4 separate regions of the Homo sapiens genome follow, and all the other regions are reported to be linked to region 3. The links are microRNA targets in miRTarBase. Many come from high-throughput screens and were not tested one by one. Region 3 holds a microRNA gene; each other region holds the end of a gene's coding sequence.

Region 1 (7,133 bases), not on the chromosome of region 3:
TGAAATTTTTCCAGTGAAAAACTTGGAGGGACATTCTTGGCTCTTTCATCTAAGTTATTCATTCTAAGTTTCTGAAGTCATTTGATAAACATTTATTGAGTACCTACTATGTATGACACATTCTTGTAAGTGCTGGGAAGTGGTGATTAAATAGATGGAAAACATCATTCTCTTTCAGTTTCCTCATCCATAAAATGGATATAGAGTAAGCATACATCGTGTAAGAACAATGCTTGGTACAAGAAGGCATTCAATTAATGTCAGCTGTTATAATTAATCAGCTTCGTCCATTGTTGATCTGATTTCATCAATTTGATGTTTTTGGTCTTAAACTCTAAATAAAAATGTGTGATCTTCCATCTTATGTATTCTTCCCAACCCATTTCCTTAAGTTGCTACTCATCTTACTTTCATTAATATTACTAGGGCATTTGAAGTCTTGGAGAGAAGACATGATATAAAGTCAAAGCAAAGATGAAGTTAAAGTGGTCAGGGGTATATTACATTTTTCTTTTCTTTTGACACAGGGCCTCACTCTGTCACCCAGGCTGGAGTGCAGTGGTGCGATCACAACTCACTGCAGCCTCAGTCTCCCAAGCTCGAGCAATTCTCATACCTTAGCCTCCTGAGTAGCTTGGACTACAGGTATGCGCCACCACACCTGGCTGATTTTTAAAATTTTTAGTACAGACAAGGTCTCACTATGTTGCCCAGGCTGGTCTCGAACTCCTGAGCTAAAGCAATCTGTCGGCCTCAGCCTCCCAAAGTGTTAGGATTACAGGTGTGAGCCATCGCACCCAGCCATAGTTTTAAAATTAGGTTTGTACATATGCAAGTAGCCTCAGGTCGAAAGTTTATATTCACAGAGATTTTACTGATGATTATGTTCTGGTCTAAGATTGGGTTATAAACCAGAAGAAGCTAAAAAAAAAAGGTTTCTAAATTTATTTTTCTAAATACTAGATCTTAAACTGATTTAAAACACTCAAAATTCCTTAATACTCTTCCCCAAGAATCTTGCTTCTTGTACACAGGGTGCACACTTAACATGTTATTTTATCTATGAGTAAGAACATTCCTTCCTTCCATGCTGCTCCACCCACTCATGTTTTCAGATGCTAATGGCTTGGCCTGATAAATGCATGGTTCATTCTAAGCCCATACCATAAATTTATCACTAAGTTCCAAAGGTTTCCTTTCAGTGTAGACCTTGATCATAGCACATAATTTGTTAGTTATTTTAGTGCAATAGCACTAAAAAAATCGAAGTTAATGTTCATTCACATAATTTGCAAAGCTAATACTTAAAACTGATGGAAGTAATTCAATAATTCAAAATAATAAGTGATATTTTTGAGGTTAAGTTTATTTTCAAGAGTTCAAAACAATAAAACAAAACATTTTTATTTTCCTATTTCCCTCTTACAGGTTTGGAGAAGACTGGAACAATTATTCATACATTTGTATTACTATCAAGCATCCCACATACCTTAAGGATTGTATACTGCATTTTGATACAATCTTCTTCACTAACAATATAGTAAATTATTTTTATACATTCTGTGTAGGATTAAAATAAATAACTATAGAAATAATTTAACAAATCTTTATAGAGCATCTAGTGTGTGCCAGGTTTTGAAGACACAAAAATAAATAAAAAATGGTCCCTGCCATTAAGAAGTTCACAGTGTAAAGGGGCAAACACACAAATAAAATAGACAATTTAATGTCATATGACAGTTTTGAGAGAGGTCTATACAAAGAACTACAAGAACATCTAAAAAGTCACTTAATCCAGAACAGTAGAAGTTATGGATTGTTTCCAGGCCAAGATGATAAGTTTTACAATAGATTTTTGCCAAGAAAAGAATCAATGGTGGGGATTACTCCAGGTATATCAAACAGCCTGTGCAAAGGCAGAGAAGTGAGAAAATTTTTATGAAATAGTTTTGTAAGACTGAACAGAAAGATATAGGGTGGGACAGTGGTTAGAGAACAGGCTGGAGAGGTAGGCCAGACCACATCATTAAAGGCCCTATGGGCTTTAGTGGGGAATTTTGATTTCTACCTGTATGCAGTCAGGAGTTTAAGTTAGGGTGACGTGCTAAATTTGGGGTTTAACAAAGACTACACTGCTAACAGTAAAAGGAAGGAACTGGAGGCAGGAACACCAGTAAGAGGTTATTTTAGAAATCCCAATGTCAAATAAGGACAAGAATTAAGTAATGAGGCAGAGATAAAGATGGGGAAGAGGTGAATTACTTAGATATTTGGATGATAAAATCAAGTAAGAATTGACTCGGCTGGACTTGGAGAATGATGGAGAAAAGTAAAATATGGTGATTTTCTAACAGGACATGCCATTCACTGAGATAGGAACTGGAGGAAGAACTACTTTTATGAGATGGTAAGTTTTGATTCAGGTGCTTATATATAAACTATCTTTGGATATATCAAATATTTTATATATATATATATATACTTATACTATCTTTGGATAAAAATCCAAAAGATAATAGCATATGTATTTCTGGAACATCTCATGGAGATCTGATGTTGGGACACGGACATAGACGGCATTAGCACCAACAATGGTAGCTGACATAGGAGTTGTAGATGGGATCACCAAGGATGTTAGAGTATAGAGACGAGATGACAACAGGTGGAACTTTGGGGGAACACTAACATGTAATGAGTAGGTGAAGGAAAGCGAGTCTTTGGAGGAAACTGAGAAGACGGGTTAGAGTAGGGAAAGAAAAGTCCAAGAGACTATAGTTCCAACCCATGGAGGAGAGAGTTTTAAGAAGTACTTATGTGTGTCAGTGTGAGTGTTTATGTGTGTCAAATATATTAACAAGTAGAATGCATCCAGTGGATTTAGACATTAAGTCACTTGTAATTTGGATACCAACAGTTTCAACCATATGGAGTGATGGCCATATTATAGCAGATTAAGACTGACTGGTGAGGAAGTCAGAGTGAAATCTAAGATGTTAATGTAAGCCACAAATAATACATATTTGAAAAATGGGCAACGAAACCACATCAGGTGGGGGTCCCAGTATGATGGTGAAACTCAATTTGAATTAATTTAGGTAAGCAGATAAGGAATGGCTGGGACCAGGGTCTGGAATATAATCAGGCCTCTTTCCCTGCAATTGTTCTTTCCCCTGGTGGCTCCACATTCTCTTACTTAAGATCCGTTTTCGTTTTCTTTTTTTTTTTTTTTTTTTTGAGACGGAGTCTCGCTCTGTCGCCCAGGCCGGACTGCGGACTGCAGTGGCGCAATCTCGGCTCACTGCAAGCTCCGCCTCCCGGGTTCACGCCATTCTCCTGCCTCAGCCTCCCGAGTAGCTGGGACTACAGGCGCCCGCCACCGCGCCCGGCTAATTTTTTGTATTTTTAGTAGAGACGGGGTTTCACCTTGTTAGCCAGGATGGTCTCGATCTCCTGACCTCATGATCCACCCGCCTCGGCCTCCCAAAGTGCTGGGATTACAGGCGTGAGCCACCGCGCCCGGCCAAGATCCGTTTTCTTTGTGTGGCAGGGAACAGTTTCATCAGCAAAGAGGAAAGGGCTTCTTTCTTCCAACTTATGAAAAGGGGGGATTGGGTCATGTTTCCATCCTTGGACTAAACACGGAGGCTGGGAAAAACAGGATAATGTAAAAAAAAAAAAACAAGAAAACAAAAAACCCAGCTGGGTGCGGTGGCTCATGCCTATAATCCCAGCACTTTAGGAGGCTGAGGCAGGTAGATCACAAGGTCAGGAGGCCAAGATGGTGAAACCCCGTTTCTACTAAAAATACAAAAATTAGCTGGGCATGGTGGCGGGCGCCTATAATCCTGGCTGCTCGGGAGGCTGACACAGAGAGTTGCTTGAACCTGGGAGGTGGAGGTTGCAGTGGGCCAAGATCATGCCACTGCACTCCAGCCTGGGTGACAGAGTGAGACTTCATCTCAAAAAACAAAACAAAAAAACAAAAACAAAAAACTGCCCCCCACCCCGGCCAAAAAAAACCACACACTTGGTTGGAAGTGAGAAGGGTGAGTCTCCCTAATTAGGATAACTTCTATTAACAGATGATGATGATAGATTGTAAGGGGGCTGGACAAAAATAATAAACATCCATTACAAAAAAACAGCTAAAAATATATGTGTACATTTACTATTGTACACAGATGCTATTCAGCAAAATGCTTATAGCTTTAATTTTTCCCATACTTTGAAAATTTCCAAGTGCTTTCTTATCTTTTATGAAATAAAATTAGTAGGATACCTTTCTTTCTTCCTTTTTTTTTGAGACGAAGTTTCACTCTTGTTGCCCAGGCTGGAGCGCAGTGGCGTGATCTCTGCTCACTGCAACCTCTGCCTGCCAGGTTTAAGCGATTCTCCTGCCTCAGCCTCCCAAGTAGCTGGGATTACAGGCACCTGCCACCACGCCCGGCTAATTTTTGTATATTTAGTAGAGACAGGGTTTCACCATGTTGACCAGGCTGGTCTTGAACTTCTGACCTGAGGTGATCCACCCACCTTGGTCTCCCAAAGTGCTGGGATTACAGGCGTGAGCCATGGCGCACAGCCCCTTTCTTTTGTTAAGAGTAAATGGGCAGAAGAGAATGTTGTTGGGTCTAGAAATTATACTCTATGATCATCAGTGGAATTGGAGAGAAGACATAGGAAGAGACAGGCTATCAGTCTTCAAATATCTGGCAATCATAGACAGGAAGGACTGAATCAGCCTGGTTCTAGAGGGTGGAAGTGGGGCTAGAAGGCAAACGTTACAGAGAGGTGGTCTTCAGTGCAAGCCTAGACTACAACTGGACTGTTCTGTGACATAACAGAGATGCTATTAGTAGAAGTACAGGATTTCAGCTTGGGCTGGCTGACTGACAGTGTTCCTATTGAGAAAATTACTGAATAGTCCTGGACACTTGACTGCCTGATTTTCAAGGACTCTTCCAACTCTAAGAAGATAGTAGGAGACAATTAATTATCTACTGCTTGATTCAACATACAGAATTTGCATATAGTGGGGCATCTTTCTAATATTTGCCTATTTGTTAAATATTGGTTTCCTGGATTCTTATATTTAATGCTATAGAGAACAGTTTTTAAGAAGAAAACCCCACACTAACTAAAGCAGTTTGTAGACACTTTTTTACTATGGTGGTAACCACAGATTCAGAATAAACAATTTGTTATAGTGAGTAGCATATAATCTGTTTTTATGAAAAAAGAGAAACAAAAGTTTTTAAAAGTTAAAATAAAGGTTCCTAAAAAGTTATAAACTTTAACAAAGACAAGTGTTAAGGATTCTTTAGAATAACAGTTTTCTTTTTAATATGGAGAAAACAAAAAGGAGCTGAAAGTCCTTTGTCTTGCTATCTAAGAATAGCACACTAGATGGTGCTATAAGGCTGTCAGAAAGAGAGTTTTACCAGGCTAGTGTGGCATTCTGATGGTAAAGTGTTCTGGAAACTTTCCACTTACTTTCAGCTCCTGAGAGCCGTTCCAGGTTTATATAAAATTAATGGGAATCTCAATTGGACAAACTTTAGCCCTGAGATGACATTAACTTAAAACTAAACCACAGGCTTAACACATTAAAAATAGTTTCACTATTTGACATTTCAATCTGATTCCACTGAAATAGAAATGTTAAAGTCATTAAAATGTCAATGTATTAATTTAAATGTATTGCTATTAATTTCACTTAGCTAGTCTTCCCATGAGCCTAGTTATAACCACCACTTAATGAATCTTTAAGTCAGTTTAAAGTGGCTTCCTGAAATTTTGAATTATCATTAAGCTGAACATACAAATCACTCTTACATTTAGTATTGCAAATATATTAACACAAATACATGAAACATTGTATTTGGAAATCACTCTATCAGTATATTATTTCTTATAAAAATAACATTTCATGATTTTTCCACATTACAATAAAACCAGAAAAATTTTACTAAAGTGCAAAACAAAAATAAAGCTTTACTTTTATAATAGTTCCATTTCATTTTCTTTTAAAAAGGTGAACAACAAAATGAACGAATAAAGATATCGCTTTTGCAACCTAAGAGTCATTTAAGTTTTAAACTTTCAAAGACCTGAGATTTGTGATTTTTTTTCCCCTTATCTTTCCAGTTCTGCTTCTAGAATTTCCCCCCATGTATCTGCATCCATTGGGTACATGATTTTTTCTGGTAGGCTAATGGGAGAACAAATGTTGCTGTATCTGCCACTTAGCCATTCGTGTTTCACTTTACTCTTCTGGTAATTCCTCAGCAGTATCACCTGAAAGAGGTAAATCACCGTTAAAAAAGACTGTAGTAGGTGGTTGGTTAGTGAATGTGTTTAAAGCAAGAGAAGCAGATTGACAGGGCTGAAAAAAAGAGTATTTACATTTATATATACGTACATTAATAAATGTATGTGTCTGTGTACGTGTGTGTATGTATATGTGTATTTATACTGAGTGGCATAAGGTGAAGTGGAAAGAAGGAGCTAATTCCCTTCTGGTTAACGCAGGAAAATTCCCGAATTTAGAATTTTAAAAATGCAAAAGGATAAATGAAAGATAGTGTGGAAACAGTGTGGTTAGCAGGAAAAGACTAATAACTTTAACTCATTTCCAAGAGTCAACACACTGTCTGTGTTATTCTGCATATGTAATTCTGACTCCTCCAAGCAGAAGTTAGAATTGGCGCAAACCTGCTATCATAACGCTGTCAACAACACTGCAGATCGCAAAGATTAAACTTACCCTCCAGGAATAACCACTTTCTAGATCATCATCTATTTCTCTTCGGCACACAGCTCTTACAGTCATGCAGTGAGGTTTCCATAAAGAGTCACTGTTTCTTATTGTGTCATTCCAGCTCCTGCATGTCAATGAAGCCCTGCACAGACTCCGAATGTCCAGCTGACTGAAAATTTTAAAAGTGATTTCTGCAGGCAGCAGTTCAAAAAAGTTGTTTTGACTCTCATTTTTTTCCTTCTCAGCATCCACAGAGTTCGCTTCTGTGTGAGAAACTCTTAAATTATTGTTTCTCTTGGAGTTTTTATGCATAGCTTAATGTTTTAAGTTATCCTCATATGTAACCTAAAAGGCAAAATTTAAACATGCTCAG
Region 2 (7,160 bases), not on the chromosome of region 3:
CCCCAAATTATGATCTCTCCACGGTAGTCAACGGAGCTTCATAAATTATTCCTTAATCCGAGGCTTCTCAAATCTGTTGTGTTCCCTAAACAACAGAATAAATGCCTACTCTGAGGGTCTGACACAAAAGCAGGAGTCCCACAAAATAAGTTCCTTTAAAATATTTCTTCTTGTATTTAAAAGTCACACTGATTTGGTATTCTATACAATAATAAATTTATCTTTTACACAGAAATCCTGTTTTATAGTATTTATCAGATCAATTATTTAGCCTTTTCCAAATTTTCGAGTAAACTGACGTCCTGGAAGAAGCACCCTTATTTTCACCATTTTACAGTCGAAGAAGGGAAGATAAGAGGCGGTGAATCCGAGACTTTCATTCAGGTGACGATCCCTCGCGGGCACTCACTCTCGCTCACACTACAATCAGATCCTCCATGCGGCTTTCATATACTCTGTCACACTCGCAGCCAGAATCCCCTCGGATGGACTCTTGCAAACCTCCAGCCCCATCCCGGGATCCGTGCGTCTTCTACAGCCACCACTTGGGCCAGCGTCCAGGACGCCCAAGCGTAACCTCCCCACTCTAAACCGTTAGGAATCAGTGGCTGGACTCACCGCGTCATAAAAGCATAAACTGTGACCCGATGAGTCCGCGCACTCGGAAAACAAGAGAACGCTCCCACGTCTCCGGGCGCAGCTTGTGCCAGCGACTACTAGGTCAGGGGGCGCAGCTGAGAGAATTCAAGCAACCTCCCCGCAACCGGTTCCGCCGCGTTTGTGGGCTGGTAGCCCGGAATACATTTCCCAGAGGCCTTCGCGGCCGACGTGCTTCGCGCAGGAACGCAGCCGCCTCCCGACTGGAGGACGCGGTAGCGGAGCTGCTCAAAGCGAGGTGCTCAGCCCTGGGAGGCTCAGGGCTGCCCGAGGGGCTTAGTCCCAGAGCCAGTGCTGTCAGGGGCTGAGCATGTGAATAGGGCAGTCGGAAGACCATGTGTGTCTGTGGCTTTTAAATACACCCCGAACGTCTATCTCTTTTAACTGGAGTATTTAATTTATTTACATTTAATATAGCCACTGATAGATTTAAAGCTGCCATTTTATTATATTTTCTTTTTTTTTTTTAGTGCTAAATACACAGGCTTTTATTTTCTTCATATTCAATCTTTTTGTGAATTTAAAGATGAGGAGGCCGGGGGCAATGGCTCACGCCTGTAATCCTAGCACTTTGGGAGGCCGAGGCAGGCGGATTGCCCGAGCTCAGGAGTTCGAGACCAGCCTGGGCAACATGGTGAAACCCCGTCTTTACTAAAATACAAAAAATTAGCTGGGCATGGCGGCGTGCGCCTGTAGTCCCAGCTACTCGGGAGGCTGAGGCAGGAGAATCGCTTGAACCCGGGAGGCGGAGGTTGTGGTGAGCCGAGATCGCACCACTGCACTCGCCGGGGCGACAGAGTGAGACTCTGTCTCAAAACCACAACAACAACAACAACAACAAAAACTATATTAATACTTTAATACCCTAAAGATAATGAGACAAACGTGCATTTGTGGAACTGCATGTCAATCAGGCCAGTTCCCTGCAGAGGGAACTCCCAGCATGACCTCAGTCATCTGTGAGGACACAGAGCAGTCCTTGTTTAGACACACACTTTCATCTACTGCTGCAGCATGGTCAGCACTCCACTTCTTGATGGTTTCCTTCTGCTATGAATATGCATGTCCAGTTGCTTCTTAGAGCAGACACCTTCCTCATCCACCAGCCATTGGAGGAGGACTGGGGCCACCCAGATGATTGATTGGACCCATTCTTCCAGGAGGGTTTCCCGGTGGCCCTCTTCCATCGTCATCGTATCTGAAATCAGATGAGTTTCCATAGCTTCTTCTTTTTTTCAAATCTTGCCGAAGCAGAGTTTTGAAAAACAAAACCACAAACTCAGCTATTCCCCAGAAGAAATCTGTTATCAAAGATAATCTCCATGGAGACTGACTCCAGTTGTCCAACACTTGTGCGTTTGAGATGTAAACCATCTTGCCCCCATTCCCTGCTTCGGAGCCTTATTTATTACTTTTTAAAAACAGGGTCTCCCTATGTTGCCCAGGCTGGCCTTGAACTCCTGGGTTCAAACGATCCTCCCGCCTCTGCCTCCCAAAGTGCTGGGATTACAGGCATTAGCTCCTGGCATTTTAATTTGTTTTCTTTTTGTTGCATGTTTCCTTTTTCTCTCCTTTCTTTATGTTGGATTGATGTATTACTATTCCAATTTTCTCTTTAATAGTTTGTAGGTTCTTTAAGTCATTACTCCAGGAATTTTAATAAGTCCAAATTTATCAATACTCTGACTCTCCTCTCACAGAATGCATTCAATTTCATATGCCCTCTTAAATTTAAAATACAAGATATCAGTTACATATTCGTTTTGTTTAAAAAAACCTCTCTAGGCTGGGCGTGGTGGCTCACGTCTGTAATCTCAGTACTTTGGGAGGCCGAGGTGGGCCGATCACAAGGTCAGGAGATCAAGACAATCCTGGCCAACATGGTGAAACTAAAATACAAAAATTAGCTGGGTGTGGTGGCGCGTGCCTCCACACCCAGCTAATACCAGTAGAATACCAGCTACACAGGAGGCTGAGGCAGGAGAATTGCTTGAACCAGGGAGTCAGAGGTTGTGGTGAGCTGAGATTGTGCCACTGCGTTCCAGCCTGGTGACAGAGCGAGACTCCGTCTCAACAAACAAACAAAAATCTCTCTGATGTTATACTATTATTTTGTCAGTATTCATTTACATTTACTCAGAACATTAACATAAATATAAGTGGTGTTCAAATAAACAGAATGTTTAGGTTTTGTCAAAGAGAAATACAGTGGGGCTGGGCGCAGTGGCTCATGCCTGTAATCCAGTGCTTTGGGAGGTTAAGGCAGCTGGATTGCTTGAGGCCAAAAGTTTAAGAGCAGCCTGGGCAAAATAGTGAGACCCCATGCCTACAAATTTTTTTTTTTTTAATTAGCTGGGCCTGGTGGTCTACACCCATAATCCCAGCTACTCTGGAGGCTGAGGCCAGAGGATCACTTGAGCCCAAGAGCTATGGATGGCATGACTACACTGCAGCCTAGGCCACAGACCTAGACCCTGTCTTAAGAAACAAAAAGGCCAGATGCAGTGGCTAACACCTGTAATCCCAGCACTTTGGGAGGCCAAGGTGGGCAGATCGCCTGAGGTCAGCAGTTCAAGACCAGACTAGCCAACATGGTGAAACCCCGTGTCTACTAAAAATACAAAAATTAGCCAGGCGTGGTGGTGTGCACCTGTAATCCCAGCTACTCAGGAGGCTAAGGCAGGAGAATGGCTTGAACCTGGGAGGCGGAGGTTGCAATGAGCCGAGATTGCACCATTGCACTCCACCCTGGGTGACAAGAGCGAGACTCCGTCTCAAAGAAAAGAAAAGAGTCCAAGCGTGGTGGCGTACGCCTGTAATCACAGCACTTTGGGAGGCCGAGGTGGGTGGATTGCCTGAGGTTATGAGTTCAAGCCTGGCCAACATAGTGAAAGCCCATCTCTACTAAAAATATAAAAATTAGCGGGGTGTGGTGGCACATGCCTGTAATCCCAGCTACTTGGGAGGCTGAGGCAGGAGCATCACTTGAACCCAGGAGGCAGAGGTTGCAGTGAGCCGAGATCATGGCCACTGTACTCCAGCCTGGGCCACAGAGCCAGACTGCATCTCAAAAAAACAAAAACAAAAAAAAAAAAAGAAAAGAAAAAGAAACAAAGTGAGACAATAGTAAAAGGCAGTAAAGACAGATTTTATTCAGTAATAACTACTGCATTAGGGAACAGAATCCAGTGTGAACTGAGCTCCACTTTGGGAAACAAAAATCAGGAGTTGTTGAAAATGTTGGGGTGTACTAAAGAAGACACTGAAAGGTGTTACGGGGGAGTTTGGTCCATATGACTAAGGCATCAGGTTTTTTTTTTTTTTTTTTTTTAACTAATTGGTATTTATCCAGAGTAGAAACAAACTTCTTGTATCTTTACGACTGAGGTAGTTGTGAAAGTTGGAGCAAGACAGCCACCAAAGTTAGGCCCTTACACTCCCACAGCAACTGAGAGGCTGGAGCAAGAGCTGGCTCTCTGAATGTTTGCATTTCAAACTCAGCTGAGGAGACAGCTCTTGGTGGTAGATTTGCATCTCAAAGGGGCAGAGAAATGGTTTATAATTGCAAGCTTTCTAAAGTAACTGCTTTAAGAGGGGGCTTAAGGACCTATCACTATTTACAGGTTTTGGCTGGAACAGTATGTTTTCAGAACAGCATTGAGCTTTCTCAGGCAGGTTTTTTTTTTTTTGAGATGGAGTCTTGCTCTGTCACCCAGGCTGGAGTGCAGTGGTGTGATCTCCGCGCACCGCAATTGCCACCTCCCGGGTTCAAACAATTCTCCTGCCTCAGCCTCCCGAGTAGCTGGGATTACAGGCGCCTGCCACCACGCCCAGTTAATTTTTGCATTTTTAGTAGAGACGGGGTTTCACCATGTTGGCCAGTCTGGTCTTGAACTCCTGACCTCCAGTGATCCACCCACTTTGGCCTCCCAAAGTGTTGGGATTACAGGCGTGAGCCACACTGCCCAGCTTACATCTGAATTTCATTCCAGGATTAAGTGTCTGATTCACCTAAACAGATCGGAATGAAAGCCCTCTTATGGTTTTTACTTATTATCTGTTTACCCAGAATGAATTCAAATTTAAAAAGCATAAAACTTTTTTGAATTCATTAAACTTGAATGGTTAATGGTTTTCATTTCGTCAAAATGCACTAAAAATAACACAAGTAATGATATTATTATATACAGAAGCTAATGTTTATTGAACGTAACAGTATATTTCATGTAGTTTCCCATAATTTTTTCATGTACTAACTCATGTAATTCTTTGTTTTTTAGAGATCTGAAGTGATTTTACCTTTACTTCCTTCACTTTAAGCCAATCATGAAATTTCAGTGATTTCTGGGGTGAGGGCGAAAGGTGGTGTTACGAATCATCGGGGCTGTGGCCCAGTTGCCTCACGGAGGTGCAGGTAGGCTGGGGCCTCACTAGGGCAGCTGGAGGAGCACGGACTGCCCTGCCGGCAGGCAGGTGATGTTCCGAGAGCATGAGAGCTGGTATGCAATGTCTTCTGCAGCTTCCAGCTTGCACAGCTCGCTCTGGCCGTCCCCTGCAGTGGCCAGTGAGTTGGCGATCAGCTCAGCTGCCTTGGAGTCACCCTCAGCAGAGATGATGGCCGCCTTTTCCACCACAAATCTGGCGCTCTCTGCTTCCTGGGGGGCCACCTGTCTGTTAACTCCTTCAAGAAGGTCAGATGTGTCAAAGACACGTCGTCCAGAATGAGCCCAAAGGTGGCTGCTCACTCCATAAGGTTGTTGCTCACCTGGCTGGAGACCAGCTCCCTCTGGGTGATTAGTTCTCCAGCATCAAAGCGAGCCACCAGTGACTTGAGGATCTCCGTGGTAATGAACGGCAGCACACACTCATCGTAGTCCTCTCCAATGCTGGTGAAGATGCGAGGAAGCTGGCTAGTGATGGGCCGGAAGAGGATGCACAGTGTGATGTTGACATTCTGTAAATCTTTGCTACCAGTGATGACTGGCGCACTACGTGGTTGAGAACAGCAGTCAAAGATAATTGGTTTTTGTACACATGGGATGAGAAAGTGAGTCCCTTCCCCTACCACAATGTTCTGTACTCCACGGAATTGGTCAAAGATGGCAGCTCTGTGCCCAGCATCCACATTACATAAGGCAGAGTTCACCATGCCTCCTGCAACAGCTAAGGCCAGGCCAAACTTGCCGATGGACTCAAACACTTTGGCAGCCATGTTTTCTTCTGCGGGACCCTCTCACACCTGCTTCCACTCTGACCTCCACATCTAACTCATGTAATTCTAACAGCACTATACTGTAGGTACTACTATCATCATTTATATATGATCCCCAGAAGGGATAAATATCTTCCCCCATATCATCCCAGCTATAGGAAGCAGATGTTGATCATGAGCATTAAATATGCAGAGTGGCTAAATAGCCTTTCCCATCATCGCTTATATCAACAGAGGTTTCCTGTGTAATGGCTTTTTCCAGGTTTAACAATAAATGATTGTTGCTGGAAGATGTTTACATGCAAGTATAAAGAATGGTTTCCTACGTTTTCTCAGTTTTCCTCTACTGTGAATATTTTGGCAATCCAAAACTAGAGGAATATCAGAAAAGTTTTCTTATGTTATTAAAAAAATACATTATAAATTCTCTGAATCTGAGTTAACACAGGTCATACCAAAGAAACTGCATATATGATTTACATTTTGAAAAGTTCACACCAATACAAATTGATGCCTAATAAAAACTGAACTGTATCTCAAAGCCATTCCACATTGTCTTCATTCAAATTGTTCAGTGGGATAAATCCATTGACACAATGTGCTTTCTTTACTACCTGTATATGCCACAATTTCTCTATCAAATATGAATTCTCTGATGTACTTCAAGGATGGATCTAAGCCTAAAGGACCTTCTGCATTTGTTACATTTAAAGGGTTTCTCACCAGTATGAACTCTATGATGTATACTAAGTTCATGGCTACTATTAAAAGCTTTCCCACACTCTTCACACATATAGGGATTTCCATCAGCATGAACGCTTTCATGTCTAACAAGATATGAGGCACAGTGAAATGCCTTCCCACATCTTTTACATTCATAGGGTTTATCACTGGTATGAATTCTCTCATGAATAATAAGATGTGAAGCATGACTAAAAGTTTCCCCACATTCTTTACATTCATAGGACTTTTCACCAGCATGAGTTCGGTCATGATATATGAGGCTTGTGGCATGACGAAAGGCCTTGCCACATTCCTTACATTCGTAGGGTTTCTCAGCGCTATGAATATTCTGATGGGCTTTAAGTACAGAAATGAACCTAAAAGACTTCCCGCATTTGTTGCATTCAAAGGGTTTCTTACCACTGTGAATACTCAGATGCTGAGTAAGTTGTCCAGATACACTAAAGGCCTTCCCACATTCCTTACATTCATAAGGTTTCTCACCAGTATGAACTCTGCGATGTATAGTGAGTTTATGGCTATAACTAAAACCCTTCCCACACTCTTG
Region 3 (7,160 bases):
TATTATGAATAACAAAAGACATTCCTATCACTCAGGAAATTCCAAGGGTCTTATGAGCTCTGAGTCAGAAGTCAAGAACAAAGTCCCAACATATATTTTTCCTCTATCATACTATATGGTTCCTAAATTGGCTGGGATGATTATAGCTCAGAGGCTGAAAAACATGCTCTGAATGCATACTTCATCACACTTACCAGAAAGGGGCCACTCTCCTCCACTGAAAAGCAAGAATGCTCCTTTCTGTGAACTCCAAAAATCTGAGCAGGTCTCAGTTAATTTAGAAAGTTTATTTTGCCAATAAACCTTAGCAAAAAGTTGAGGATGCATGCCCATGACACAGCCTCAGGAGGTCCTGACAACATATGCTCAAGGTGGTCGGGGCACAGCTTGGTTTTATACATTTTAGGGAGACATAAGACATCAATACATATGTGTAAGATGTACATTATTTCAGTCCGGAAAGCTGGGACAACTCAAGATGAAGGGGAAGTGGGGAGTGGGCTTCCAGATCATAGGTGGATAAGAGACAAATGGTTGCATTGTTTTGAGTTTCTGATTAGCCTCTCCAAAGAAGGCAATCAGATATACACTTATCTCAGTGAGCAGAGGGGTGACTCTGAATAGAATGGGAGGGGGATTTGCCCTGAGCAGTTCCCAGCTTGACTTTTCCCTTTAGCTTAGTGATTTAGGGGCCCCAAGATTTATTTTCCTTTCACATTTCTCTGTACCTGTTTCCTCATCCCATCCAGGACGAGAGGCTTAACTGGGGACATGCCATTCCTGCATCTATTTTTTTCTTTTTATTTTTTAGAGATGTTATCTCACTATGTTGCCCAGGCTGGAGTGCAGTGGCTATTCACAGGCATGATCATAGCCTTGAACCCCTGGCCTCCAGAAATCCTCCCATCTCAGCCTCCTGAGTACCTGGGACTGGAGGTGTGCACCACTGTGTCTGGTACCTACATTTTTATTTCTCTTTTCTTTCTTTCTTTTTTTTTTTCCTAAATGTCTATCCTATGCCTGTCCCTCCACTGTACTTTGGAATGCATCCCTCCTTCTGACTGTACAGGACTACCTGTCATTCCCAGAACACTGGCCCTCCTACCCTTTGTGCCTTGCCATCGGCTTGAAATGCCTTCTTTCCTTTCTTTTCCTGTCAAAATTGCAGGTGATTAAAAAGGTTGTGGGGCAAACATACTTTGTGGTAGTGGTAGGTGTTCTGCAACATGGCACTCTTAATTTACACTTGTTTCTACTTCTTAGCTGGAAGAAAAGTCTTATGCAGTCATAAAACAAATAGATTTGTAATTTGGGGGTCACAATGTACAGAACTCATTTTTTTTTTCTTTCTTTCTTTTGAGACAGAGTCTGGCTCTGTTGCCCAGGCTGGAGTGCAGTGGCGCAGTCATAGCTCAGTGTATCCTCTGCCTCCTGGGCTCAAGCAATCCTCCCACCTCAGCCTCCCAAGTAGCTGGGACTACAGGCATGTGCCACCATGCCTGGATCATTTCTGTATTTTTTGCAGAGACAGGGTTTTACCATTGTTGCCCAGACTGGTCTTGAGCCCTTGGGCTCAAGCAATCCTCCTGCCTCAGCCTCCCAAACTGCTGGGATTACAGGGATGAGCCACCTCACCCAGCCCAGAACTCATTTAATATAACGTCGTTGGCTTTATTACATTTCTGACATTCCTCACACACAACAAAATCTTCCCTTTGGGAGGCTGGAAGGATACACCTGCCTGTTTTCCCTAAGGTCACATGTTCGTCCTTCCACACCCTTCACAGGGTATCCAGGCAGAATTAAGCTGTGTCTTCCCACAGCACTTGTACTCAGCTCTGACTGCTTGTTTACAAGGCTGTTTGCCTCTGAAGGCTGCAGGTGTCCTGTTGTTTACCTTTGCTGTCCCTGAACAGTATCTGACACGTCATGTATGCTCACTGAATGCTTGGTCCTGGTCTACAGGAGAGAGAGGTCAACCTAATTAGACAAGAACCAGGACAGGACACAGAGGAAAACTGGTTGTGGAGGCAGGGACGAGTGCTCCTTGGTAGTCACCTTCTTTGGAAGGAGAAGCTGTTCCTTATCTTAGGCCTGCTTCTCGTTCACTCTGCCTTCTGGACCGCTAGGTAGAAGTACACACACACACAATTTTTCTATTAATAGATAAAACTCAAGACAATAGCTCCAAAAATAACCTCTTCTTCAAGGTCAGTGGAAGGCAGTAGAAACACCATTCTGGCCAACCCACTGAACCAACGGGTGCACGTAGGCTCCCAGGTGCAAGGAAGCAATGTGTACCCCTTGGTTCAGTGGGTTGACCTCCTAACCCTCAAGGATGGGGTGCTGCAGAGTGTCAGCAGGGCCACATCATGGCTTTCATGGCGCTTAGGCACTTATGCCTCTGTGGGCCCATTCTTCCATAAAAATATATTAAAAATTATATTTTGTGACTACATTGGCATAAAGACAAATTGAATCCAAACTTGATTCATTTGTATGTATTCATTACTATTATAGTCATCTTCTTCTAATTTTAAAAGAAATTAAAATTAAAACATTTTCGTGGTCCCCTAAAAGTAGAGGGCCTATATTAGTCTGGAATTTCCAGAGAGACAGAACCAATAGGAAGGAGATAGATATTTATAGCCAACTGCAGATCATGGGACTGTCTCAGCCCCATATGTATCTGAAGGCTGAGAAGTCCCATGATCCGCACTTGGCAAGCTGGAGACTCAGGAGAGCCAGTGCTGTGAGTTCCAGTCCGAGAACGAAGGCAGGAGAAGGCTGACGTCCCGCTCAAAGGACAGTCAGGTAGAGAGAGCCTGATTTTTCCCTTACTCCACTTTTTCGGTTCTATTCAGGCCTCACCTCCAACAGATTGGATGAGGCCCGCCCACCATGGAGAGGGCAGTCTGCTTCACTCAGTCTATTGATTCAAATAGTAATCCCAGCCAGAAACACCCTCACGGGATACCCCAAATAATGTTGAGCCAAGCACCTGGGAGGTCAAGTTGACACATAAAATTAACCACCACAGGGCCCTGTGTCTACTGAGCCCATTGGAGAAGTCGGCCTGAGTTTGAGGGAGTAGCTGACATAGGGTCCTTTTCTTGGAGTTCCCCTTTGTAAGTGACTGCCCACACAGTGGTTCACTGGGCTCACTGCAAAAGGTCTTGAGCTTGGAGACCAGTGCCTGGTGCATTAAGGAAGACTGCCAGGGCCTTGGAGGACTGAATTTACCTCTGCTGTCTGTCACAAATCATCTTCATTCCTGACCAAATGTCTCTGGCCTATGCTGAGCCCCCAGGAAATGACATTTGCCTCACAGGACCTGGAGGATCAGAGCATCCTCTAAGCCAGAGAAGCACGAACTTGGACCCCAAGTTGGTTAGCTTGATCTACAGCAGCAGCCACAGCTGGGAAATCTCTTTTCAGTTGAATTTTTCTTTTAAAAACGTTCATCTAAATGTTGCATTCTACTCCATAGTATATTCATATTTCTCCCCAAAAGATTTAAGGAAAAGTTGATGCTCCGTTTTTATCCCATGGCTTGACTATTCCTGGAATATTGGCCCTCTGATTGGAGAAAAGTGGGCTTAGAGACAAGCCGAGCTCTGAGGCCCTTTGTCAGGGATTAATGACACTACAAGAGTTAGGATCAATATTTAGCCTTCTTTCCCTGCCTTCTCTTGCTCCTGCCCATTTGCCAGATGGAGGAAGTAGGCCTTAGGGAAGGGAGCCCATTTGCTCAGTGTGTCAAGGCTGGAGGTGAAATAGAATCAGGGCAGCATCAGGGCAAACTGGGAGTGTCTCTTTTTTTTTTTCACTCTGAGACAGGAAAAACCACTTTGTCGCCCAGGCAGTGGCACGATCTCAGCTCACTGCAACCTTTGGCTCCCAGGTTTAAGTGATTCTCGTGCCTCAGCCACCCAAGTAGCTGAGACTACAGACATGCACAACCATGCCCAGCTGATTTTTGTATTTTCAGTAGAGATGGGTTTTCACCCTGTTGGCCAGGCTGGTCTCAAACTCCTGGCTTCAAGTGATCTGGCCACCTCGGGTGCCGGGATTACAGGTGTGAGCCACGCGCCCAGTCCGGAGTGGCTTTTATGCCCTGGCCATGATCCAGCAGTGGATCAAGGTGAGTGGGGCAGAAATTTTTTTTTCGGTGGGGGAGACAGTAATTTTACAGCTAACAGTTTCAGTGTAAATCCTGACCACCTGTATATTCGAGCCATAGACCACAGTCTGCAGACCTAAGGCACATTTCATGTAACTTTACATCCGTATCAAGGAGGTTCGATCTTTGGGAAAATAAATATTTACCCAGCTTCAAAGAAGTCAGACTTCCTGCCATTTATTTTTAGTTCTTTGGGTATGTGCAGATCATCACCAACACAATAAAGAAAATGCAGATGCTTCTCATAATTACCCAGCTAAGGCTGGGAGTGGTAACTCACGCCTGTAATCCCAGCACTTTGGGAGGCTGAGGCAGGTGGATCACTTGAGGCCAGGAGTTCAAGACCAGCCTGGCCAACATGGTGAAACCCTGTCTCTACCAAAAATACGAAAATTAGCTGGGGCTGGCACACACCTGTGGTCCCAGCTACTCAGGAGGCTGAGGTAGGAGGATAGGTTGAGCCTAGGAAGTTGAGGCTGCAGCAAGCCGAGATCACGCCACTGCACCCCAGCCTGGGTGGACAGAGTGAGACGCTGTTTCAAAACAAAAGAAAAGAAAAAAGAAAAGAGAGAAGAGAAGAGAAGAAAGGACATTTTAACACTAAAAGCATAAAGAACAAAACCTCAAAATCTCAAAATGGAACAAATTTGGATTTAAGAAAAATCTACTGCATTGTGTATGTTGTTTTTCTATATTGCGCTAAACTGGAGAAAACATCACTGTAGACAGGTACTGCTCTGAGGTCTGGAGTTTAGAAACTATTGAAACTTTTGTGAGTAATTCTGATGCAAAAAAGAAAGAAGAAAGAAAGAAAGAAAGAAAGAAAGAAAGAAAGAAAGAAAGAAAGAAAGAAAGAAAGAAACTATTGAATTTCATGGAACTCTTAGGTCCATTTTCAAGCTCTAATATGCTAGGATGAATCTTTCAACCTTGCACCTTTTCCCCAAATTGTCAGTCTGTAAATTGTCATTAGCCCAGTGCTTATCCATTCTTCCCTCCTTCTGCAGCTGAGAGAAGAGAAGTGTCTACTGCACTAAAGAAAATCTTCCTTCTAGAGGACACATACTGATGAAAACCTACAACTACTACAAGAGGAAAATGAGCCCATTCCTGATACTATTCTAAACACCTTACATATTTAGCAATTAAAAAGCTAGCTCACTGAAGCTTCACAACAACCTATGAGCTAGGCACAAGCATTATCCCCATTTCACAGACGGGGACACTGAGGCACAGAGACAAAATAATGAAGTCACAAAACAATATCCAGTGTGCTTTGGACTTTCCTAGCTCTGCAGAGGCCAGCCTGAAGTCTGTGTGTGTGCTGGCTTGTGACATGTAGACTAAGGCTCATGGTCCCACATCCTATCATTTCCCACTTGCTTTAGGAACTGATGCCTGTTGCCTGTGCCCTCATGGATGGATGGTCTCCTTATATGTGCAAGAACAGTAGCACTAGCTGCCGTGTATCTTGACCCTCTGGGTGTGAGAATCCAAAACTTCATAATCTAGCTTTTTTTTTTTTTTTTTTTTTTGAGACGGAGTCTCACTCTGTTGCCTAGGCTAGAGTGCAGTGGCACCATCTCAGCTCACTGTAACCTCCGCTCCCTGGGTTCAAGCAATTCTCCTGCCTCAGCCTCCCGAGTAGCTGAGATTACAGGTGTATGCTACCACGCCTGGCTACTTTTTTAATTTTTAGTAGAGATGGGGTTTCGCCATGTTGGCCAGACTGGTCTCGAACTCCTGACTTCAAGTGATCCACCCACCTCGACCTCCCAAAGTGCTGGGATTACAGGCGTGAGCCACCGCACCCAGCCATAATCTTGCTTTATACTCACCAGAGTCCTCTAGGAAGGGGGTTATTATTCCTGTTTCACAGGTGATATAACTGTAGTTTAGAGAGGTGACCTGCCCAAGGTCACATAGCTGGCTAGGATTTGAACTGAGATCTTCCTGACTCCAAAGCTCCTACCTCTAACCCCATAAAGAAAGGAAGGATTGTGTCCCATTTTGCAGTCAGAAATCTACAATTCTCAGAGAAGGGAACTGAGAAGCCCACACCAGCTGGGAGCTGAAACCAGCATCAGGCTCAAATCTCCCTGCTTGCCAGGTTCCTGGTCCAGCCCCTGATCACCCCACCTTCTAGACACTGACCCAAGCCAGGGCACTGGAAAAGACATTTTGAGAAAAGGAGGGAGGCTCAGGGGAGATTAGGGATGAGACAAAACATCTTGGGGCCAGAGCATACTGTCCTGGGAGCTTTGCCAACATGGCTTGAAGGACCTTGGGGAGATGATTGGGAGGGGGGTGACAGCTGGGGAGCACGGACACTAGACTGGGAGCCCTTTGTCCCAGGAGCAGACCGCCCCAAATACCAAACTGGCTCCTTGGTACTATCTCTCAGCCCTCTTGACTCAGTGGGCTCAACCACAGTTTAACCACATATAAAAATGAGGTCTAATAGGCTGATAGGAAAGGCACATAAATAATGACTTTCTTGACTTTGGAATCAGGACAAGCCTAAAGACCAGCAAAACCTCCTCCCAACCCCCCTTCTTTGTCCACCTGCCTCCCACCAGTCTCCTCCACCGTGGTAAATGGTACCACCCGTCTTTGGGTTGCTCAAGCTAGAAATCTGGGATTCAGGCCTGTTTCCTCTTCCTCACTCCAGCCCATCAGTAAGTCCTCTAGGTACAACCTCCCAAATACATCTCATTTCCTCCCACCTCTCTCTCCCCCCTCCTCCAGCAAGTCCCAGCCAGCATCCTCTTCCCCCTGGATGCTAGAGAGGCTCCTGTCTGCTCTCCTTCCTCCCACGGCTGCCCGCACAGCCTATTCTCAGACGTACAGCCGCCGTGAGGTTTGGACATTGAAATCAGACCGTGTCACTTGCTTAGAGCCCTCCAATCACTTCCCATTAGACTCAGACAAAAATGGAAATCTCCTAACTTGGTCTGCCTAATCTGGCCGCTGCCCA
Region 4 (7,000 bases), not on the chromosome of region 3:
TACAGTCTTTGCCACCAACCCCTTCTTAGGGTTTGAAGAGGGGCCACATCAGATATCTTTGGAAACCCATGGCAGGAGTGAGCTTTTCTCTGGGCACCTCTTATTTCCATCCTGTATCCTGGGTCTTTCCCACCTACTCAGGCTTTGGGTAAAAAGGCCAGGCTATTAGAACATCATGGGGGTGGCGAGGCCTGCAGGAGGGTGGCTTACCACCCATTCCGAGAAAAAAAATCCATGCTTGATAAAGCCTCCGGGACTCTAGTGGTAAAGTTATTAGTCAATCTTTCATCAGTGGTTCCTGGCCTTTTTATCCCAAACAACCTTTTATTTTTATCCTCCTAAGGTTTTAGCTTCTCTCCAAATAAAACTTTCTTAAGGACTACTTTTGTAGTTTTTAGGTAGTGAAAGATTCATCTAATATTTCTGATCAGCATGAAATAACCAGTTGCTATACCAAAAGCAAGGAAATTTGATGCTTCATTTATTCTGTAATATTCCATACACGATTTTAAATTATAATAGGCCAGGCGCCGTGGCTCATGCCTGTAATCCCAGGACTTTGGGAGGCCAAGGTGGGCAGATCACTTGAGCTCAGGAGTTTGTGACTAGCCTGAGCAACATAGCAAGACCTCGTCTCTACAAAAAATGCAAAAATTAGCCAGGCATGCTGTCATGCACCTGAAGTCCAAGGTGCTGTGGAGGCTGAGGTGGGAGAATCGATTGAGCCCAGGAGGTCTAGGCTACAGTGAGCCATGATCATACCACTGCACTCTAGCCTGAGTGGCACAGTGAGACCCTGTCTCAAAAACATAAACATAAAATAAAAATAAATAAATTATTACGGGTGCAGTGGCTCATGCCTGTAATCCTAGCACTTTGGGAGGCCGAGGCGGGCAGATCACTTGAGGTCAGGAGTTTGAGACCAGCCTGGCCAACATGGCGAAGCCCTGTCTCTACTAAAAATACAAAAATAAAATAAAATAAAACGAGCTTGGTGTGGTGGCAGGTGCCTGTAATCTCAGCTACTCAGGAGGCTGAGGCAGGAGAATCACTTGAACCCAGGAGGCAGAGATTGCAATGAGCTGAGATCAGGACACTGCACTCCAGCCTGGGTGACAGAGCAAGACTGTCTCAAAAAAATAAATAAATAAAAATAAATGAATAAATTATAACAATAGCTTTAGGTCCCCCATTATCAGGGAAAAGCCTTTAGAGATCATGTTGTCCAGCCCCTTCCTTTTTTAGACAGGAGAACTTACTCAGAGATAATAAGTAAATGACATACAGTTTATACAACAAAACTTCCTTGGGAAATGATGCTTTGCTTTTCCTGGGAGACCATTTAGTGTTAGGGTCAGGAGGAGCTATGGGGAGGTGAGGGCAGCCAGATGCAAGGGGAGTAGAGGTCTGGGCTGTGCCTGAGACTCTCACAGATCCTTCCCCTTCCTGACTTCCCAGGTCTGGTGTGACCTGCGTCAGGTTTCAGGGAGCTGGGCTGCAGACTGCTGATGCTCTAGTGCCTAGACCTGCAGCCTTGCTGTCTTCTCCCACCCCAGCTTGAGGACCAAATACCACTCTCCTCTCTGTTGGAGTGGATTTTTCTCCTAAAACCAAAGGAGGCACTCTTCTTCCCCAATCTGAAGTTTTTGTATTTTGCTATTACAGACCTGCTCTCTGGTCTCTAAATCTGGATTCCCAATGTACCCTGGGTGCCATAGAGTTGGCAGTTACTTTCCTGGGGGAAGAGGGTAGGACTTCAATGTTCTGAAAGTGACAGATCTCCGAGTTCCAGATATGGGTGTTCAGCAAATTTCTCAGTCTCTTCTAACAGGCCCTGCTTTGCAGGTGACCCGGCGCTTTGGGATCCCAGGGCTGAAGAAAATCATGGACTGGTTTGGCTACTATGGAGGCCCCTGCCGCGCCCCCTTGCAGGAGCTGAGCCCCGCTGAGGAGGAGGCACTGCGCATGGATTTCACCAGCAACGGCTGGCTCTGAGGGCAGGCAGGGTCCATGGCTGGCCTGAGCCCATCTCAGCCTCCTGCCTTGCACTTGCAGCCTGAAGCGGAGAGCACAGGGGGATGAGGGTGGCAGGCAGCGGGGAGCCGATAGAGGCTCCTTTGCCTGCTGTGGTCCTCCAGGCAGCCTTTCACAGGCACGCCCATGCATATCTCCTATTCTAACGGCCCCTGACCTCTCCCTTTTGGATCCTAAACTGTGTCTCTGGTCTGAAGACTGGGAAGGAGCAATTTCTCAATTTATCTTTCTACTGTGGATGCTTTCCTACGCCCTGAGGCACATGAAGTCAGAAAGGAAGGGCAGAGGGGCAAGTAGGCACAGTAAGGGAATTTTCTTTTCTTTTTTTTTTTTTTTGAGACAGAGTTTCACTCTGTCACCCAGGCTGGAGTGCAATGGCATGATCTCGCCTCCTGGGTTCAAGCGATTCTCCTGCCTCAGCCTCCCGAGTAGCTGGGATTACAGGCGCCTGCCACCACGCCCAGCTAATTTTTGTATTTTTAGCAGAGATGGGGTTTCACCGTGTTGGCCAGGCTGGTCTTGAACTCCTGACCTCAGGTGATCCAACTGCCTCGGCCTCCCAAAGTGCTGGGATTACAGCTGTGAGCCACTGCACCCGGCCGGGAATTTATCAAAGGGGGGACTACTTAGATTTGGGGCTTCAAACCTGAGTCTAGCACAATGCAGCTGGAGGCCAGGGCTACTCCTACAAACCCAAGTTCTGACTCCTTCCAGGGAAGTATCAGCTTAAGAAACTTGATCAGGAAAGTGACACTGGTCTTTCAAAGAGCCCTCTTTACCCTCCCATCCCTGCCCTCCACACTGCAAGCTGCATTCCAGCCACAACGCCCTTTTCTAAATCTATTTTCATTCATCTCCTATTCTGGTCTGTAGCCTTGATTCCAACCATTGAATGCACGGAGACAGCCCAGTGGCTTGTCAGATTGGTAAATAATGACACCTGGTGGATAAATGTTACATTCTAGAAGACTATTCTGGTCAGCCTAGGTCTGAAACACTAAGGAGACTTGGCCTGAGATAGGGCCATCCACTTGCCTACAGGCACTCTGCTTTTATTATTAAAAATAGTCACTTTGTTACTATAATAAAATTTAACAGAAAAAATTAGTGTGGCTATATAAAGATGGACACTCTATTGCTATGCAGATCTTAGGTTTCCTGGCCAGATGTCAAGAACCTTTCTAAAGGCAAAAGAGCTCTGATGGTCTGCCTTCTCCCAGCTCGAAGAGTGTCCCCAGCAATACTGAGCCAACAGGCATTCACTTACTGGAGACCTGGGGAAGGGGTAAGAGGCAAAAGAGAGCAAGTGAGCTATTTAGAAACAAACACTTAGCACTTTTATTTTATTTTTTTGAGACAGAGTCTTGCTCTGTCATTCAGGCTGGTGTGCAGTGGCACGATCTCGGCTCACTACAACCTCTGCCTCCCAGATTCAAGTGACTCCCCTGCCTCACCCTCCCGAGTAGCTGGAATTACAGGTGTTCACCACCATGCCCGGCTAATTTTTGTATTTTTAGTAGAGACAGCGTTTCGCCATGTTGGTCAGGCTGGTCTCGAACTCCTGACCTCAGGTGATCTTCCTGCCTCGGCCTCCCAAAGTGCTGGGATTATAGGCGTGAGCCACTGCACCCCTTCAGCATCCTTTTTGATTAAAGTGCTAAGTGTTTAGGGCCAGGCAGCACTTTGGGAGGCGGAGGCAGGAGGATCACATGAGGTCAAGAGTTTGAGACCAGCCTGATCAACACGGCAAACCCCATGTCTACTAAAAATACAAAAATTAGCCGGGCGTGGTGGCACACGCCTGTAATCCCAGCTACTCAGGAGGCTGAGGCACAAGAATCGCTTGAACGTGGGAGGTGGAGGTTGCAATGGGCCGAGATCGTGTCATGGCACTCCAGCCTGTGCCACAAGAGCAAAACTCCATCTCAACAACAACAACAAAAAAGGATGCTTTCTCCAAAATATTTAACCTTTTTCAGTGGTAATATTTGACTAGTGGCAGAAAAATGGAGATACATTGTAAAAAAATTACTCCTTAAAAGAAAGTGTAAGGTTAAAAAGAGAGGTAAATAGATACTTGTTTAGGGCAGAGGCTAAAGGAGAGAAAATAAAAGATCTCAATCTTCAACCCAAAACCAGGCTCTGAATGGCACTACAGCTTGGGGCTTAGTGCCTGGGGTCCTCTCACAGGCAACTTCCAGAGGAGCAAGGCTCAGAGGAGAATCAAGTTTAGGACTTGGGGGAAAAGTTAGGGCTAGGCAGGCAGGGTAGTGCACTGGGTAAGAGCTCAGCCTCTGGGCTTAAACAGGTCTGGGTTTAAGTTCTGGGATCTGCCCCTTAGTGTCTATGGGACCTTGGAGAAACTGCTTAACTTCCCTGAGCCTCATCTGTAATACAGGGATAATAATAGTACCTTCCTCCAACAAGGACGTGCATGTAAAAGGGTTAGCGTGGGGGTCAATGTTCCACCACTCTCCTGTTGCAGAAAAAGGGAAACTCCGGCAGGAGTGGACCTGCCAGAGGTAACCCAGCAGGTGTGGCCATAACTAGTCTCAGGACTTAAGTACTCTGATGCTCAGGGTGAGAGAGGTCCAGTAAAGGGAGCTGGAATCAGAAAGGCTCGGTTACAAATCTCACCCAGCTGTGCTACCTACTAGTTGGGACAGCCTGAGATTGTCTGATTTAAATAAGAAAAAAAAGTTCATACGTCCTCCTCTGTAGAGGCTGAGAAAATTAGATGACTTGATAAAGTGTGCAGGGTCAGTTCCAAGGGCTAACCCGATTAACTTTTACAAACAGCAAATGGGTTGATATTCATGAAGACGCAGGGCCAGAAAGTCAGGAAAACTAGGTATAGGCAGTTCTGGTGATTTCTTTATTCTTTATAAACACCTTTTTCTACAGTACAATTCAGAGAATAAATAGAGGCACACGGCTATAACTTCCACCACAATCTGCTGTTGAAGAGACATTCAATGTGAGGCTAGGGAGCTAGAGGTGGGGGACGTATTTGGGTACCAGGGTAACGGGAGGCCTACGTAATAAACTGCAGAGATCCCATCAGTAAGGTCTGATTGCGGCCTGACGGTCAAGGCTCATGATAGAAGAGCTACAGTGAGCCAAATGCTCCTTTAGTTCCCCACAGTCCTAGAGTAGGTCCAATTCTACCAAAACCCCAGGGGTTCGGGTGAGTCTGATTTATTGGTCCACTGGGAAGAAACTGTGTCAGCCCAAGCCATCCGTATGAATTCAGTTCACTCCATGGTAGTGCCTGAAGTGGCCTAAATATTCTACCCTTTTCCCTGGAGTTAGTCACAAATACAAGTAATAAGATTACTGTTTACATGAGTTTTTTTCTTGATTGTCCCAAAAAGGGATCCTGTTCCCCATCTAAGGAAGGAGAGAGGCACACATGGGGATTATCTGCTCTAAGTTGATGAAAGAAGACAGCCTGTCTTCTAAAGGGAGGAGGAAATAGCACTCTTACCGAATCCTTCACGGGGACATAGGCAGGAATGAATACCAGTCTGATCAGACCAAGTGGAAGCCTGCAGCCATGATTCCAACCAGCATGAGGAGTAACATATGGAAAAGCTCTGCCAGCCAGGCACAGTGGCTCACACCTGCAATCCTAGCACTTTGGCAGGCCCAGGCAGGAGGATCACTTGAGCCCAGGATTTTGAGATGAGCCTGAGCCACATAGCAAGACCCTGGCTCAATTTTTTATAATAATAAAATTAAAGGCTGAGCGTGGTGGCTCACGCCTGTAATCCCAGCACTTTGGGAGACCAAGGCGGGTGGATCACGAGGTCAGGAGTTTGAGACCAGCCTGGCCAATATGGTGAAACCCCGTCTCTACTAAAAAAAAATACAAAAATTAGCTGGGTGTGGTGGCGCGCTCCTGTAGTCCCAGCTACTCAGGAAGCTGAGGCAGGGGAATTGCTTGAACCTGGGAGGCAGAAGTTGCAGTGAGCTGAGATCATGCCACTGCACTCTAGCCTGGGCGAGAGTAAAACTCCATCTCAAAAATAAAAAATAAAATAATAATAATAATAATAAAAAAATTAAAAAAGAAAAGCTCTGGCCTTGACTTTCACAGGGCTGCTGTACTGAGCCACCCCTATCTTTTCCCTATTTCTCCAGAGTGGCACAGAGCACTGGCCCTAAGCTGGGGCTAGGATCACCTGTCCCCAAAGCAGCAGAACGAAGGTTCTGTATCACTTGGCAGAAAATGAAGCAGAAGGGTCACAGCAGGCTACACTGGGTAACCTGAGGTCTTAGGAACAGAGTATCAACCAGTGAGAAGAGGTGGCTCCTCTGTCCTCCAGCACATAAGGGTTAGGGAAAGACAGAACCACCAATGACTGCTGCAGGGTCTGCTGGCCAGCATCCTCAGCACTTTTCTGTGGTCCAGTTCTGGAATGGCAGGTGACAGGGCACATACAAGGCCTCTGCTCCACTGTCATTGTCAACTCATCTCAGCTCTGATTCATTTGTTCACCTCGAATCAACAACAGGGGCACTGGCTTTACCCAATACTTATCAGCTGGTGCCCACTGCGCTGTCAGGCAGTGAGATTTCTGGCTGACTTGGAGGCGCTCTGGGCCCGCTGAACAATGGCAGAACACTTCTCACGTCGCAGCAGCTTGTTGTTCTCAAAGAGACCTTCATTGCGGGGGATTCCATGAGAACCATCAGGGAAAGTCAGCAGGCCTTTGAGGAGGGCAGAGAAAATATGGGAGTGACAATGGCATTAATGTCTCAAAGATGAGACATATCTTTGGCCTTGATATGTCCAGGCCAAAGAAGAGAAAAACTCCCAGCTCTACTCAGGAGTACTCTATTGATGAGTTCAATGGATAGGTGTCAGGGACGGCCACTATGGATTGCTGGACACCCGCAGGATTAAAACTAAACAGGTATATTTCCACCCATATTATGCCCACCTAAGTCAGCCATCCTGCTG

Evidence for each region. The annotated mature microRNA hsa-miR-5694 reads CAGAUCAUGGGACUGUCUCAG and lies in region 3 at 2,657-2,677, shown strand. An mRNA with a match to its seed (bases 2 to 7 or 8) in the 3' UTR can be bound and repressed. Matches are read on the target gene's strand: a 7mer-m8 pairs with bases 2 to 8, a 7mer-A1 pairs with bases 2 to 7 and ends in A, and an 8mer does both.
Region 1: the mRNA of FBXO48 is a reported target of hsa-miR-5694. Seed matches in the 3' UTR shown: 7mer-m8 at 3,912-3,918 and 7mer-A1 at 3,754-3,760.
Region 2: miRTarBase lists ZNF607 as a target of hsa-miR-5694. The part of its 3' UTR that is shown has no 7-base or 8-base seed match.
Region 4: the mRNA of MORN4 is a reported target of hsa-miR-5694. Seed matches in the 3' UTR shown: 7mer-m8 at 6,011-6,017.

The regions. Positions count from the first base shown.
Region 1 is chr2:68,458,074-68,465,206 of GRCh38, forward strand. FBXO48 (F-box protein 48) reads right to left here. Exons shown (of 4, transcript NM_001024680.3): 3 at 6,767-7,105; 4 at 1,349-6,297. The coding sequence starts at 7,072. The coding sequence ends at 6,136. Among named protein-coding and RNA genes, the nearest start is that of FBXO48, 5.7 kb to the right of the region's middle.
Region 2 is chr19:37,691,534-37,698,693 of GRCh38, forward strand. It overlaps ZNF607 (zinc finger protein 607), which reads right to left. Exons shown (of 5, transcript NM_032689.5): 5 at 4,838-7,160. The coding sequence ends at 6,507. It also overlaps the pseudogene ZNF781 and the pseudogene SELENOKP1. Among named protein-coding and RNA genes, the nearest start is that of ZNF607, 25 kb to the right of the region's middle. RefSeq lists enhancers at 3,643-4,318, 4,995-5,669.
Region 3 is chr14:67,437,419-67,444,578 of GRCh38, reverse strand. MIR5694 (microRNA 5694) reads left to right here and starts at 2,649; the gene lies at 2,649-2,724. It also overlaps a transcript of GPHN not described here.
Region 4 is chr10:97,609,665-97,616,664 of GRCh38, forward strand. It overlaps MORN4 (MORN repeat containing 4), which reads right to left. Exons shown (of 5, transcript NM_178832.4): 5 at 4,891-6,747. The coding sequence ends at 6,599. It overlaps HOGA1 (4-hydroxy-2-oxoglutarate aldolase 1), which reads left to right. Exons shown (of 7, transcript NM_138413.4): 7 at 1,846-3,138. The coding sequence ends at 1,995. Among named protein-coding and RNA genes, the nearest start is that of MORN4, 20 kb to the right of the region's middle. RefSeq lists an enhancer at 2,662-2,881.